2 separate regions of the Homo sapiens genome follow, and region 2 is linked to region 1. Evidence: fine-mapped expression QTL. A gene starts in region 1. The other region holds a variant in brackets. All regions are shown on one strand. Distances are between the middles of the regions. Region 1 holds the start of CRIP3 (cysteine rich protein 3). Region 2 overlaps LOC105375065 (a long non-coding RNA gene).

Region 1 (8,326 bases):
GTTTCAGGGTGCATGATTGGGGGCATGTAAACTGCAAGCATAAATGTGTACATGAGTGTATGAACACAAATACATAAGGTTGTTCAGGAAGATGTGTATGTGTGCACACTCAAGTATGCCTACACATCAGGGGTGTGTACAAGCATGTGTGTGAGTCACTTGTACAGGCGTTTGTATACCAGGAACTGGGGTGAGCCCTGGGACAGCCCTGATGGGGCAGGCTGGGGTGGTAGGCTCGGGGATTAAACCCCACCATTGCTCACAACTCCTTCCTCCCTAGTGCCCCAACCAGTCTTCAGGAGGAAGAGATGCCCATGAAGCAGGTCCAGAACTAAGTGGGAGTGGAGGCAGGCCCTCCACAGAAGCTCTGCAGCAGGGGCTGGGAGAGCAGAAGGGCAGGCCCTGCAACTCAGGCTGGGAGTATCGAACCCTCTGCCTAGGGCCGGAGTTGCTGCCAGTACCCGCTCCCTCTGCTCATCCATCCTTGATTATTTGGCTTCTAGGAACAGTTGACTTCCCAGAATGCAGTGGGCTGCTGGGCACCCCTCTCACGGTTGGGGAGGATTCTGTAAATAAAGGTGCCCCTTGGGTTGGGGCAGTGGTGACGAGCTGTGGGAAGAGCCCTGGATAGGAAGCCACTGAGTCTGCCCTGGGCTCTGATAAAACCTTCACCATTAACTTGCTGTGTGACCTTGGGCATGTGGCTTTCCCTCTCTGGGCCTCAGTCTGTTCATCTCCCAAATGGATAATGAAGCCTCTTGGGAGGCCCTACCATAGGATCTGTTGCCATGCTCAAATGAGTTACTGAATAAGGTGCTTCTGCTTCTTCTAGAGATGGTGCTAAAGAAAGGACTAGCATATGAGACTTCTGGTACCAATGGGGCTGGTGGGCATGCTGTCCACTGTGTGGTGCTAGGACTGCCAATGCCAGGCCCAAGGGACAAAAAGAACAGAGCTTTTTGTTCTCATGGCTGGCCCTGCTACCTCCGAGGCACCCTGCAGGGCAATGCATGTCATCCCAACCCCCACACTCCCCATCCTCCAACCCACTGGTCTCATGCCCAAAGAAGAGTTGAAGGCATGGGAGCCAACATTTTATTGAAGAAGCCACAGAGGCTGAAATTCAATAAACACAAGTTTTATGAGTACCTTGAAGCTCCAGAATGTGCTGGGGAAAGGGGTTGTGATGGCCAGGAGGAGGATACCCTTCAAAACGGGCTGTTCCCTAACCAGATAGAAATGGGAAAGGGAAAAAATTGGCAGAGAAAGTCTAGACTCTCTGGCCTACCATGGAGCCTAGGCCCAGGCCCCCAAGATCCCACCTTCCCCAACCCCCATGGGACTGGAGATTTTTGTAGCTTCCATTGGACCATGAGGGGCATGATGGGAGGCCTGAGTTAGGGTGACCTTTTTTGTGAGCGTCTCATTTGAATTTTATCTTCACTGGGTCATAGATGTAGCAGCCCACATCGCCAATGTTCACACCTGAGAGAGAGAGCCCTATCACCAAAGGCCCTGGGTCTGTGGTGCAGGGTTCAGGCCTAGAGGGAACTTGGTGGGGGGGCCAGGGTATGCTTAACCACAGGGGAAGTTGTCCACACATACCCACAGACCATGTACATGCCATACTTCAGGCATGTACATGCCATCCCAGTGTCTGGGATGGGGCTGCCCACCTTTGGGGCCAAACAGGTAGCCGTAGCAGGGGACGTGGCAGTAGGGGACTCCATCATGCTGAGACACAGAGAGAAAGAGAGCTGTCTCAGCCTGGTTCTCTTCCCATCTCCAGCCTCCTCCCAACATAACCACTCATTCCTGCCCTGCTCACCTCAGCATGACTCCCAGCAGTCAGGGTCTTGTGGCAACGCTGGCACCTCAGACACGGTCGGTGCCAATTTCTGCCTAATGACATCACCTTCTCAGCTGGTGGTGGAAAGAAGTGGTAATGCTTCCATTCTAGGGGTAGAGTAGGGAGACCTACCTGCCTTGGATCACCTCCCTCCCCCTTGCTGCCCACCCTGTATCCCCCTCCCCAAGTTTTCCACTGTTACTTACCAAAATAGACGGGCTCCCCACAGCCAGGGCACAGCGAGGTCTCCCCAGTGAATGTCTTCATATGGGGAGGGCCTTTAAAGGGGAAGAGGCCCTGGCTATGTCTGAGGTGGAGATGCCCACCAGCACCTGCCTGCATATGGTGCTGTCCTCTTTCAAAAGCCATGCTCATTCCAGAGTGCCCCACCCAGGCGCCCAAGAGTCTGCCTTCTACAGGCCCAGAGCTGAGCCCCCTCTGACTCCACCTCCTGCCCCATCCCTATGTGTATTAGGGACTATCTGCTTCCTTCTCCTGCTTCCTTTTCATCCTCCCAGGGGCTCACGTACCCACCATCCCAACCCTGTTAGCAACTCAATCCTCAGGAAACTTGAGCTGATATAGGAGCTGGCCACAGCACGGGTGTCAGGTGTTGGGGAGCACAGTGTCATTGCCTACTTCAGGGAATGGAGGGAAAGAACAGGGACCAGAGGAGAAAAGTTGAAGAATATGAGAGGCTGGCCTTATCCCAATGACTCCTCTCCTTTAGATCATTCCTTCCATGGCCCTGGCCTGGGACAGACCTAAGTTCCTGGCCAGCTTTGCCTCTGACTAGCTTTGTGGATGGACAGTCATTTGCCCTGTCTGGATCTCACTTTCCTCACCTGTAACACACGAGGAGAGGGGATAATGCCATCTGCCCAATTAACCTCTTTTTTTTTTTTTTTTTTTTTTTTTGAGATGGAGTCTCGCTCTGTTGCCCAGGCTGGAGTGCAATGGCATGACCTTGACTCACTGCAACCTCCGCCTCCTGGGTTCAAATGATTCTCCTGCCTCAGCCTCCCAAGTAGCTGGGATTACAGGCATGAGCCACCACACCTGGCTAATTTTTGTATTTTTAGTAGAGATGGGATTTCACCATGCTGGCCAGGCTGGTCTCGAACTCCTGACCTCATGATCCACCTGCCTCGGCCTCCCAACAATTTACCTCTTAACTCAGCAGCTCACATGAGGGAATAGAAAGAAAGAAAGAAAAAAAAAGCGGGGAGTAGATAGAGAAGACTTTGCCAAGAATGAAGTTGTGAGAATGTGAAGCAGAGGGCTGGATAGGAGACTGCCACCTGGCCCAACCTCCGCTCCAGCTTGGGGAAGGGTCGGGAGGAGGACTGGGAGGAGCTGAGCCCAGCCTTACTTTTCTTGCCTTGGGGGAGGCCAGTCCTTGGCCTGGGAGGGCTGAAGCTGCTGGGGCTGAGAGGAGTGGTGCAGCCAGGGCTGGGAGTGGGGGGATTGTACAAGTAGGAGCCTACACCACCAATGTTCACCCCTGAAGAGAGAATAGGGGAGGTCAGGCTTGAGCCCCCAGCTCCCAGCCACAAGGAGGGTTCTGCTGACCCATGGCCCCTTAAGGCTGGTACTTACCCCTGGGTCCAAAGAGAGCCCCATAGCATGGCTTGTGGCAGTATGGCCTCCCATTGTGCTGGGCACAAGCAGAGGGAAGTGGGTTACTCAAGGCCAGCGGGAGCCATGCCCCACAGGCCTTCACCCCAGACAGGCTGCCAGGTGTGTCTGTCCACTGGCTGAGTCTGGTGGGCCTGGGAGGGGTGGGGGATGGGCTGGCATGCCAGCATTTCCACTGTGGTCAAGGGAGGAAGAGCAAGAGCAGCTCAGAAGGTGACGCTGCTTCCCACTCACCCTGATCCCCAAAACCATGGGATCCACAGTCACGACCCAGGTTCCCAAATTCCTGGCTGGTGTGGGGTCCACCAGGTGGGCGGCCTTGGGGTTGGCTACTGAGGTTCCCTTTGGCAGGCCTCCAGTGCTGAAGTTGGGGGCTGGTGCCTGGGGGGTGGGAGGCAGTGATGTAAACAGGGCAGTGCTCCCTGGCCAGGTCTTACCTCTGCATGCCCGCCAGGGGACAGGATGCTGTGGCAGCGCTCACATTTCAGGCAGAAGCGGTGCCAGTTCTTGCCCAGGGAGCTCACCTTCTCAGCTGTGGAGGACAAAGTGGAACCGAGCTGCGAGGAGCCTGTCCAAGCATAGGGCCCCTCCTTTCCCTCTTCGGCCCTCTAGGGAATTAGGTTGGCCTGCCCTGCTTCCTGGAGATGAGTGTCTCCAGGAGGCCAGCTCCATCCCGCTCCGGTTTCACACTCCCCACAGAGCTCTCAGAGGAAGGGAGAAGACCCGAGTGGGAGCGGGTGGTGCGGAGACTACCAGCCGCTGCAGGTGAAAAGGGTGTCTGGGACTACACTGTGGCTAGCCCTCCGCGTCCTCAGGGAATCCAGCGGCTCCCATTCGCCCCATCTTCTCCCCCTCCGCAGCCCGGGCCTCACCGAAGAAAACAGGTTGCTGGCAACGCGGACAGGTCCAGCTCATAGCTCCGCTCCAGGCAGCGCACGCGGCACACAGTAGGTACGCCGCTGCGGCTCAGTTCCGCCCCCTCCGCAGGCTCCACCCACGGCTCAGCTTTGAGCCTCCCTGGGCGGAATCCGCGGTTCCTCGGCGCTCATTGGTTATCAGAAATTTAGAACCACTCCACTTGGGAGACAAAGGGCTATTTCGCTGTTACTTCAAAGAGCATTAAAGCCTCGGTCAGACCCACGGGGAGGAGAGAGGATCTTGAAGCCGTGGACTCCAGACTAGGAAGGCACATGTGTAACGAAGACACCTGGACAGGGAGCTCTACTAGTTTCTGGAGCGGTAAGGACAGGAAAAATGTCCACAGTGCAGACATCATTAAAACACTACTCTCTCCAAAGCGAGGGAGTAGGCATTCTTTGAAATGCAAAATTCCACCTTGGCAGTATAGCAAGTGGTTGAAAGCAACAAAATCTGGAGCCCGTCTCTGGTACCCTACTCTTTGACTTCAGGCAAATTACTGAACCTCCCTCTCTGCCTCCATTTTCTCATCTGTGCAATGAGTATGATAACAGTCTCTGCCTCATAGGATTGTTATGAGAGTTAAATAGGTTAATACATGTAGAGTGCCCAAACAGCGCCTGGCATGTAAACGCTGTAACAGCTATAGCTATCACTATGATGGATCCCTTAATGAACTCAAGACTCGGTTTGGAAGCCTCAGAACATGGTCTGTATACAATCGTTTACTCCTAAAGCTGTAGGGTGGCTGGACACAGTGGCTGACACCTGTAATCCCAGCACTTTGGGAGGCCAAGGTGGGCGGATCGCCTGAGGTCAGGAGTCCAAGACCAGCCTGGCCATCGAGGCGAAACTGCGTCTCTACTAAAAATACAAAAATTAGCTGGGCGTGGTGGCGCATGCCTGTAATCTCAGCTACTCGGGAGGCTGAGGCAGGAGAATCGCATGAACCGGGAGGTGTGGAGGTTGCAGTGAGCCGAGATCGCACCACTGTACTCCAGCCTGGGGGACAAGAGCGAGACTCCATCTCAAAATAAATAAATAAATAAAAATGAAAACCAACTACACATTTCTAATCTGGTTTGCTTTAAAATTTTTAAATATTTGTGTTTTTAATGAATGTATTTATTTGAGGCAGGGTCTCTGTTGCCCAGGCTGGAATGTAGTGGTGCATCGTAGCTCACTGCAGTCTCCACCTGCCCGGCTCAAGCGATCCTCTCACTTTAGCCTCTGGAGTAGCTGGGACTACAGACACATGCCACCACACCTGGCTAATTTTTGTATTTTTTGTAGAGATGGGGTTTTGCCATGTTGCCCAGGCTGGTCTCGAATTTCTGGGCTCAAGCGATCCACCTGCCTGGGCCTCCCTAAGTGCTGGGATTACAGGTATATGCCCCCATGCCCAGATAAATATTTGTTAAAAGTAGTTCAATAGACTCTCTGGCACCATTAAAGAGATCCTGGGGACTGCCCAGTCTGTGGGCTGTAATGTTGATGGCCGCCACCCTCATGACATCATAGATGATATCAACAGTGGTTCTGTGGAATGCCCAGCCAGTTAAGCACAAAGGAAAATATTTCAATAAAGGATCATTTGACAACTGGTGGAAAAAAAAAAAAGTAGTTCAATAGTGCTTCAAAGGATATTTCAAGAAATTTAAATCCAGAGAATGGAAGAAATATTTGCAAATCTGATAAGGATCTAGTAACCAGATTATATAAATAACTTATAATGCAATAACAAAAAGACAACCCAATTAAAAGTGAGCAAAGTATTTGAATAGATGTTTTTCTAGAGATACACAAATGGCCAATAAGCACATGAAGAGATGCTGAATATCAATAGTCATTAGGGAAATGCAAATTAGGACCACAATGAGATACCATTTTATACTGACTAGGATGGTTATAATTAAAGAGACAAATATTGGCAAGAATGTGGCAAAATTGGATCCCTCATACATTGTTGGTGGCAACATAAAATGGTGTGGCCACATTGGACAACAGTCTGGCAGTTCCTCAAAAAGTTAAACATAGAGTTACCATATGACTCAGCAATTCCACTTCCAGGTTTATACCCAGGTATATAAGAGAAATGAAAACATATGTCTATACAAAAACTTGTACATGAATGTTCATAGCAGGACTATTTACAATAGTCAAAAGGTAGAAACAGCCCAAAAGTTCATTAACTGATAATGGATAAACAATATGTAGTATATCTGTATGATAGAATATTGCTCAACTGTAAAAAAGAATGTAATACTGATGCATGTTACAACACAGGTAAACCATAAAAACATTAAGTAAGAAAAGCAAGACACAAGAGGCCACATATCATATGAATCAATTCATATGAAATATTTAGAATAGGTAAATCCACAGAGACAGACAGTAGATTAGTGGTTGGCCAGTCAAGGAGATGGAATTGGAAATGTCCACTAATGGGTTCGAAGCTTCTCTATGGGAAGATAAAAATGTTCTGGAATTAGATAGCAGTAATGTTTGTACAACCTTGGAAATATACTAAAAAGCATGAACTGTAGACTTTAAAAAGGCGAATTTTATGGTATATGCGTAATGTCTTAACAACAACAACAACAACAACAATAGAACCTGAAGAAAACTAAAGAAAAAAGGCGGCCAGAAGTGGTGGCTTACGCCTGGTCCCAGCACTTTGGGAAGCTGAGGCAGGTGGACCACTTGAGCCTAGGAGTTAGAGACCAGCCTGGGCAACATGGCGAACCTCATCTCTACAAAAAATCAGCTGGGCTTGGTGGCATGTGCCTGCGAGGCTGAGGTGAGAGAATCACCTGAGCCCGGGAAGTTGAGGCTGTAGTGAGCTGAGATCACGCCACTGCACTCCAGCCTGGGCAACAGAGTGAGACTGTCTCAAAAAAAAAAAAAAAAAAAGGCAGGGGGACTGGGGGGAAAGGTAGCCAATGAAGAGCTGGAGGGAAGAGCTGATAAACTTGTGCCAGTGTCCCAGCAGAGGAGACAATAATCAATCCCTCTATGAAGGATGGAAGTGAAACCGAGTTTTCTTGAGTAAGTTCCTTTGTTACATCAAATCCGTTGAGGAAGGGCTTGCACCAAATTCATCAATGGACTGCAGTGCTGTGCTCTGCTAGGTGAAAGGCGCACTGTCTTAAGTGTCTCCTCTTGGGACATCAGTTCCTTCATCTGGGTAATGGGGTAGGGACTGGGGTCTATGAACTTCCACTGGATATTCCTGTTCCTGAATTGTCTCCATCAATCCTTTTTACTTATAACACTTGTTTTATCATTCTTAAGTTCTAAGGGTAGAAGCCTTCCACACTGTAATTTTTCTACACTTTCTCATTATTTGTTTCTTGTTTCAGGGAATATTTCAAGATGCTTAGTTTTATAACTGTTTCTTGAAAGGCTTCTTCTTTAACAAATTTGAAAAATATTAGTTTTAGCTTCCACTGAATTTTCCTGTCTTGTTTCTGCCTCTCATTTCTTGTTTTTTTTTTTTCTTTTCTTTTTTTTTTTTTTTTTTGAGACAGAGTCTCGCTCTGTTGCCCAGGCTGGAGTGCAGTGGTGCGTTCTCGACTCACTGCAACCTCTGCCTCCTGGGTTCAGGTAATTCTCCTGTCTCAGCCTCCTGAGTAGCTGGGACTACAGGTGCGCGCCACCACGCCCAGCTAATTTTTGTATTTTTAGTAGAGACGGGGTTTCACCATGTTGGCCAGGCTGGTCTCGAACTCCTCCTGACCTCAAGTGATCCATGTGCCTCGGCCTCCCAAAGTGCTGAGATTACATGTGTGAGCCACCGTGCCTGGCCTAAAAATTATTTAAAAAAGAAATGAAGCCGGACGCGATGGTTCACGCCTGTAATCCCAGCACTTTGGGAAGCTGAGGTGGGTGGATCGCTTGAGGTCAGGAGTTCGAGACCAG
Region 2 (8,326 bases), 89 kb after region 1:
CATTGTAAAAATCCCTGTCCTGTTCTGTTTCGTTCTGATTACCAGCGCATGCAGCCCCCAGTCACGTACCCCCTGCTTACTCAATTGATCACAACCCTCTCACACGGACCCCCTTAGAGTTGTGAGTCCTTAAAAGGGACAGGAATTGCTCACTCGGGGAGCTCGGCTCTGGAGACAGGAGTCTTGACGATGCTCCCGGCCGAATAAACTCCTTCCTTTTTAACTCGGTGTCTGAGGAGTTTTGTCTGCGGCTCGTCCTGCTACAGAGAAAGAGAACAAGTAAGAAAGAAAATCAGAAAGAGAAAGGGGAGGAAACGGCAAATATGGAGGGCCAGAGAGAGAGAGAGAGAGAGAGAAAGTTAAGCTGCTGACCCTGAAGGCAAGGGAGAGCTGGCCATGCATCTGTGTGTGTGGGAGCCATTGGACTAAGCAGCTGAGACAGGGTAGACAGTGTAAGACACTGTGCAGGTGCACTGGTGCCCAGAGAAAAAGAAGAGAGCCAGAGCTGTTCATCTTTGCAGACAGAAAGTGGGGAGCCAGGGTACAGCACGGCTCAGCTCGTGCCCAGAGAGAGAAAGAGGAAGAAACTGAGTATGAGGGAGAAAGGAAACGGGATGACAGAGAGAGAGACAGAAGAAGAAAAATGAGTAAGGGGCTGGGCGCGGTGGCTCACGCCTGTAATCCCAGCATTTTGGGAGGCCGAGACGGGCGGATCACGAGGTCAGGAGATCGAGACCATCCTGGCTAACACGGTGAAACCCCGTCTCTACTAAAAATACAAAAAAATTAGCCAGGTACGGTGGCGGGCACCTGTTGTCCCAGCTACTTGGGAAGCTGAGGCAGGAGAACGGCATGAACCTGGGAGGCGGAGTTTGCAGTGAGCTGAGATCACGCCACTGCACTCCAGCTTGGGCGACAGAGCGAGACTCCATCTCAAAAAAAAAAAAAAAAAGAAAAAGAAAAATGAGTAAGAGAGAGAGAGAAAGACTGGAAAAGCCAGAGATCAAAGAGAGACACAGAAGGTGAGACTTGGGAGAAAAATAATGTAAAAGGAAGAAAGAGTACAAGAAGAAGTGAGAGGATGCCGAGAAGTTGGCTGGGCTGGGGGAAGGTTCTAGAGGCTCAAGCAGCAAGGAGGTGCAGGGAAAGGTTACAGTGCGGCCACTAAGGAAGGACAGAGCTCAGGAACTGGGCGATGCAAGTGAGAAACGGATGTGAAGGAGAGCTTAGGATCAGGTTGCTTGAGGAGTAATGGGTTGCCTACAACAAAGACCAGATGGCAGGCCAGGCACGGTGGCTCATGCCTGCAATCCCAGCACTTTGGGAGGCCGAGGCTGGCAGATCACGAGATCAAGAGACTGAGACCATCTTGGCCAACGTGGTGAAACCTCGTCTTTACTAAAAATACAAAAATTAGCTGGGCGTGGTGGCACATGCCTGTAGTCTCAGCTACTTGGGAGGCTGAGGCAGGAGAATTGCTTGAACCCGGGAGGCGGAGGTTGCAGTGAGCCAAGAAGTCGCCACTGCACTCCACTCCAGCCTGGTGACAGAACAAGACTCCATCTAAAAAAAAAAAAAAAAAACCAGATGGCTGTTTGTCAGGAGGTGGTAGAGAGGATTCAGGTTATGGAAGGGTAAATGGATGAGATGACCATTAAGGTTTTGTTGTTGTTTTACTGAGAGGCTGTAAGTCCACCAGGGGCAGCTGCCAGTAAGTCTGCAGAAGGGCTGGCAGGCTACATAAGGAAGATCAGAACTAGGGTTGTAAACTCAAAGGACTACAGGGCCAGCAAAAGATGAGAAGGAGGGCTGCAGGGCTGGGTGGGGACTGTGGCTAACTGAAGAGGGCACACCGTGTTAAAGGGGCCGCAGTGCTCGGCTGTTCTTACAGTGCTGGCCCTGTGTTGCCAAATTGTCTGCTTTCTCAGAGGCCAGAATTCTGACTTTTTACATGAAATATGATTTTTAAATGCTGGGGATCAGTTCAAAAAACTTAAAAACCCAATACAGGCGAGAGAGGATGCCAGTTTGCAGTCCCTGAAGTAGAGAGAGCTCGTGCTGGGGAGAAGTCGGACAAGATGCTTTGAGGTGGGATGTATGAAAGTTCTGTTTCCGGCTGGGTGTGGTGGCTCATGCCTGTAATCCCAGCACTTTGGGAGGCCGAGGTGGGCGGATCACTTGAGGTCAGGAGACCAGCCTGGCCAACATGGTGAAACCACGTCTTTACTAAAAATACAAAAATTAGCTGGATGGGGCGGCACGTGCCTGTAATCCCAGCTACTCGGGAGGCTGAGGCAGGAGAATCACTTGAACCCGGGAGGCGGAGGTTGCAGTGAGTCAAGATCGCGCCACTGCACTCCAGCCTGGCAACAAAGCTAGACTCCGTCTCAAAAAAAAAAAAAAAGAAAAGAAAGAAAGAAAGTTCTGTTTCCCAGAGCCAGGCTGGGCCAGGGGAGGATTCTTGCAGCTGAGGAGGAGAAAAAGCCCCCTCCCAGAGCGGGACAAACCAGAGACCCTTTGCAGTTGCTGGGTCATCAGCAGGGGTGGCATCAAATAAAAACAGTGCAGCTCTCGGCCTGCCAGGAAGATGGATGGTGCCTTCGAAGCAAAGAAAGAGGAAGGGAGGCCAGAGCCAGGGATGCCTTTGCTAATGAGTGTGCCCATCAGGGAAGGCACCACAGGCTGGCAGCTCTTGGCCCAGAGCCAGACCCAGCAGGGCCTGGCCAAAGGCACCCTGGGAGGCCAGCTGGTCAGGCCTTTGCCTCCCCAAGTTCCTCTGGGGTCAACGGGCCTTGGGGAGGTGCCTAACCTAACTCCAGCCAGTTTTTCATGGAAAGGAGAGGATAATAAGAAGCCATCAGACTGTAACTGTTTAGCTATCATAGAATATCAAACTAAAGTTAGATCAGACCTTAAAGAAACTCCACTACATGATGGAATAAGGCTGTTTGTGGATGGGTCATCCCGAGTGATAGATGGTAAAAGACACGACGGCTATGCTGTCATTAATGGAAACAAACAATCCTATGTGAAAAAGGTAGATTACCCAATAACTGGTCAACCCAAACCTGTGAATTATATGCTCTTAACCAGGCCCTAAAGCTCCTAGAAGGCCAAGAAGGCACTATATACTAATTCCAAATATGCCTGTGGAGTAATACACACTTCTGAAAAAAATCTGGACAAAGCACGGCCTAATAAATAGCACGGGGGGAACGAACTGGTACATGGGGAACTGGTCAAACAAGTTTTAAAAAGCCTCCTGCTTCCCGCAGAGGTAGCCGTAGTTGATGTAAGTGGCCATCAGAAAGGAAACACTATAGAAGCTGTAGGGAACAGGCTTGCCGGTGAAGCTGCTAATCAAGTCTCCTGGAGGAAGAAGTTAGACTGTTTAGCCCAATCCCAGATATCCCTAAGGTGGTATTAAGACCCCAATTTTCTAAAGAGGAGGAGGAAGAACTGGGCAAGATAGGAGCCACTCATACTGAGGATGGAAGGTGGGTGCTCTGTAATGGGAGAGAAATGATAAACAAACCCCTTATGAGACAACTAATGTCCATACTGCATAAGGGAAGTCACTGGGGTCCCCAGGCCATGTGTGATGCAATACTCAAAAATTATGGGTGTATAGGGATTTATACCCTTGCTAAACAAGTGTGTGGGGGTTGTGTAACCTGCCAAAAAATAAACAAAAAGGTAGTTAGAAAACAGAGTACTGGAGGAAGACCTCCTGGGTTAAGGCCATTACAAAGCATTCCTGTATTTAGGCAGAACTACTGACCTTCCTACTATGGAAACCAAAGACCAATTTTTAAGAAATTATAGCCTGTAATCCCAGCACTTTGGGAGGTTGAGGCGGGCAGATCATGAGGTCAGGAGATCAAGACCATCCTGGCTAACACGGTGAAACCCCATCTCTACTAAAAATACAAAAAAAAAAAAAAAATTAGCCAGGCATGGTGGCAGGTGCCTGTAGGCCCAGCTACTCGGGAGGCTGAGGCAGGAGAATGGCATGAACCCAGGAGGCAGAGCTTGCAGTGAGCCGAGATCGCTCCACTGCACTCCAGCCTGGGCAACAGAGCGAGACTCTGTCTTAAAAAAAAAAAAAAAGAAATTACATACCGGCCAT[A/G]TCCTCCACCCTGTCATCCCTTAGGTTAAAAAGACTTCTAACTCAAACCCTGCCTCTTGAATTCACAGGTCACCACTTCCAGCCTGGCGACTTGGTGCTAATTAAGACTTGGAAGGAAGACAATCTCCACCCAAGCTGGGAAGGTTCCTATCAAGTGCTCGTGATCACTGAGACAGCCGTAGGAACAGCTGAACGGGGTGGACACTCACACTCGGGTCAAGAGACTGGTAAAAGAAACCCCAGAAGGAAGGGAAAAAGGTGAATGGGAAGTGTATAGATCACCTAAGGAACCCTTAAAGCTAACTCTAAGGAAAACCTAAAAGGAAGCTATAAGCAGGCTCCGTCCTTGGGGGTGGATATGGTTAGGATTAATCCTAATACAAGGGGTGAAAGAAGACCTAAGTATTGAATAGGGCCCAGTACTAGGGGTGGAAAGTAGGGAATATCCAAACTAATAGTCAACATAACCAAGACCTCCACCCTGCCCCAAACTATAAAATTTAATACCTGCCAAGTCTTACCTTGTGGGAATTTAGGGAACCACAGACAGTTGTCACAAGCAGACAAAGATCTATGTCCTAAAACAGACTGTTATTGGGCCCTCTCAGAAAAGCCCTGTGCTAGCTGGAATCAGGTCTGGTGGACCACTCAATATCAAAGTTGGGTGAGTCATTCTTCCAAAAACAAACCCTTATAGAATAAAATACATTTGTTTAAGGGCCCTACGCCACCTAACTGTAGAAATTTAGAATGCAATCCTATATTAATTACGATAAACAACCCAGCTACTCTTGACCGGGAACCTTGGAGGTAGGTATTAGGAACAGATATCTCAGGAAGCAATCTGGTGGAACGGTTTGCTCTTAGGCTAGTCACCAACTCCACCCCGAGCCCACCCAGGATTACTATAACTCCTGGTCCCGCTACCTCCTTTTTTTTTTTTTTTTTTGAGACGGAATCTCACTGTGTCCCCCAGGCTGTAGTGCAGTGGCGCGATCTCGGCTCACTGCAAGCTCTGCCTCCCGGGTTCAAGCCATTCTCCTGCCTCAGCCTCCCAAGTAGCTGGGACTACAGGTGCCCGCCACCACAGCTGGCTAATTTTTTTTTTTGTATTTTTAGTAGAGACGGGGTTTCACAGTGTTAGCCAGGATGGTTTATCTCCTGACCTCGTGATCCGCCCGCCTCGGCCTCCAAAGGGCTGCGATTACAGGCGCAAGCCACCACACCCGGCCTCCCACTACCTCCTTTAATCCACCAGACAATAACTCTAAGAGAATAAAAATAATTAAGGTAACTGACTTGAGGCAGACTTTAGAAATTGAGACTGAATATGGGGATGTAAATGCCTGTTGAATGGGTCAAATTTTTGGTACTAGCTCCTTTTTTTTTTTTTTTTTTTGAGATGGAGTCTCGCTCTGTTGCCAGGCTGGAGTGCAGTGGCACGATCTCAGCTCACTGCAACCTCCACCTCCTGGGTTCAAGCAATTCTCCTGCCTCAGCCTCCTGAGTAGCTGGGACTACTCAGCTACTCGCACAATGCCACGCCCGGTTAATTTTTTTTTTTTCTGTATTTTAGTAGAGATGGGGTTTCACCATGTTGCCCATGCTGGTCTCAAACTGCTGAATCAGGCAATCCACCTGCCTCAGCCTCCCAAAGTGCTAAGATTACAGGCGTGAACCACCGCACCTGGCCAGTACTAGCTCTTAATAAGACCAACTGTTACGCATGCTGTGCTGGGCAGCCTCAGGCACAGGTGGTTCCATTTCCCTAGGATGGGATACCAATCCCGACGGAATGTGTTGCATGTTGGCTCTATACCAGGACACGAATGCATGGGGAAATAAGACTTACAAAAGTCTATCATTGCTCTTTCCCGCCTTACAGAGATCAGACCCTAGAGCAATCCCCTTGTTCTCCAAAGGGAATATGAACCACTCCTCTTGCCTCTCTAGGCAGGGGGCAGAGTTCAGTAAGCCTGTGGGAAAACTCTCAGCTTGTACCCACATCCTAAACATTACTGGTGAGTCAAATAAAGGCAACTACTCAGCATTTCGTATACCCCAGGCTGATGTCTGGTGGTACTATGGGAAGAGAAACCTCTCTAACTTGTTATTGTCCAATTGGACTGGAACTTGTGCTTTAGTTCAAGTGGCCATTCCCTTCACCCTGGCATTCCATAAGATTCCCGAGAATCCACGTGGCCACTGAAGTTGGAGAGATCTAACAAATTATTTTAACCCCAGCACTTGTATTAACTCAATAGGAGTCCCTAGAGGAGTACCTAATAAATTTAAGAACCAAAGGACACAAACATAAATGTGAAAATGGGACCAATAGGAGTAAAAAGAAAAAGAGGAGGGAATTGAAGGAAATAATGCATACACTGGTCCATTTCCAAGACAAAATGCCTTGAATTGGCTTAGGTGAGCAAACTACAGAAGAAACAGGATATACTAGGCCCCTGCTTGGATAGCCAATGCCTGCTTGTCAGCCTCCCCACCTGCCTTAGTTGTCTTCACCTGAACCAAAGAAGTTTAAGATAAAAATTTACTAGTCTGCAAAATAGCTTACTTTGTCTGTTTTTATCAGTCTGTCCAGCTACTTAGGTCATAAGTCAAATACTTAAAGAGCCCTTGAGCTAACTAGGATTGCAACACATTGTGGGCTGCAATAAAATGCACAAGACAACCCCCGCCCCCCGCCAAAAAAACACCTAAAGCCCCTACCCAACAATCAATAGGCAACATCTGGGAAGACTGTGACCACATAGTACTCAGCCTATGAGGAACTGGGAGAGGGACCTGTGCATGAGGGGATAAATTGCTTGTTGAAACTGTGCTGGGTGTACCTGCCTATCAGACACCCAATCTTGCAAGACTGTCATCAAAAGTCTCACTTTCACTGTTCTCTGGGTCTCTGAGTCCATTCTTTGGGTTTGGATGGGTGAGTTCGTTTCTCACACTTCTTCCTTTCTTCTTTCTTTCTATTGCCCAGGCCAGAGTGCAGTGGTCTGATCATGGCTCACTGCAGCCTCAACCTCCTGGACTCAAGCAGTCCTCTCACCTCAGCCTCCTAAAGTGCTGAGATTATAGGCATGCACCACTGCACCTGGCATATTCTGGCAACTTTCTACTTCCCTTCCCTACACAGGTGGAAACACAGCCAAATCATGTCATGGAATGAGTGATGAATTGATGACATTGGATTGTGTCTTCGTGATGATTAATAGGGGCAAATGTCCCCAATATTTTTGAGAGATTCCTCTATGTTTTTACTTTAGTTTTCTCTATAATTTCCTATGATTGGCTTCTACCTCCACACTTGAGTAAAATTGCTCTTGGTGAGGTCACAGAACACCACTTTCTATCCAAATACTTCCACTCTCCCTAGAACCCTCCAAAGCACTTAGCACCTTACCTTTCCCTCCTCAAAAACTCCTCCCAGGCTTCCTCAAGGCTCTTTCCACTGCCCTGGGCCACTCCTTGATCTCTTGTCTAACCATCCCTCTTCCTTTTCCTGCCCTCTAGATTTGGCCAACTGCAGTAGACATTTCTTTTTTGGGAGATAGGGGTGGAGGCTGCTCAGCCCATGAGAATTTCCCACTTTAAGAATCTTATAGGCCAGGCGTGGTGGCTCACGCCTGTAACCCCAGCACTTTGGGAGACCGAGGCATGTGGATCACCTGAGGTCAGGAGTTTGAGACAAGCCTGGCCAACATGGCGAAACCCTGTCTCTACTAAATATACAAAACATTAGCTGCTCATGGTGGCGGGTGCCTGTAATCCCAGCTACTTCCGGGAGGCTGAGGCAGGAGAATCGCTTGAACCCAGGAGGCAGAGGTTGCAGTGAGCCGAGATCATGCCATTGCACTCCAGCCTGGGCAACAAGAGTGAAACTCCGTCTCAAAAAAAAAAAAAAAAAAAGAAAAGAAAAAGACAAAAAGAATTGTATATAGGCCAGGCACGGTGGCTCACGCCTGTAATCCCAGCACTTTGGGATACCTAGGTGGGGGGATCACTTAAGGCCAGGAGTTCAAGACCAGATGGGCCAACATGGTGAAACCCCATCTCTACTAAAAATACAAAAAATTAGCCGGGCGGGGTAACACGCGCCTGTAATCCCAAGTGTTTAGGAGGCTGAGGCTGAGACACGAAAGTCACTTGAACCCAGGAGGCAGAGATTGCAATGAGCCAAGA

Evidence for each region. PIP is the estimated chance that this variant, and not a neighbour inherited with it, causes the effect.
Region 2: its variant is fine-mapped to the expression of CRIP3 in whole blood (TOPMed, PIP above 0.99).

Annotation. Positions count from the first base shown.
Region 1 is chr6:43,304,391-43,312,716 of GRCh38, forward strand. It overlaps CRIP3 (cysteine rich protein 3), which reads right to left and starts at 4,436. Exons shown (of 8, transcript NM_206922.3): 1 at 4,360-4,436; 2 at 3,925-4,019; 3 at 3,449-3,506; 4 at 3,222-3,353; 5 at 2,056-2,127; 6 at 1,829-1,923; 7 at 1,677-1,734; 8 at 1,082-1,485. The coding sequence starts at 4,402. The coding sequence ends at 1,424. It overlaps SLC22A7 (solute carrier family 22 member 7), which reads left to right. Exons shown (of 11, transcript NM_153320.2): 11 at 281-1,148. The coding sequence ends at 335. It also overlaps the pseudogene RPL12P47. RefSeq lists an enhancer at 3,096-3,953.
Region 2 is chr6:43,393,340-43,401,665 of GRCh38, forward strand. It overlaps LOC105375065 (a long non-coding RNA gene), which reads left to right. Exons shown (of 6, transcript XR_007059585.1): 2 at 4,198-4,387. Among named protein-coding and RNA genes, the nearest start is that of ZNF318, 28 kb to the left of the region's middle. The variant A/G (reference allele first, on the strand shown) is at 4,130.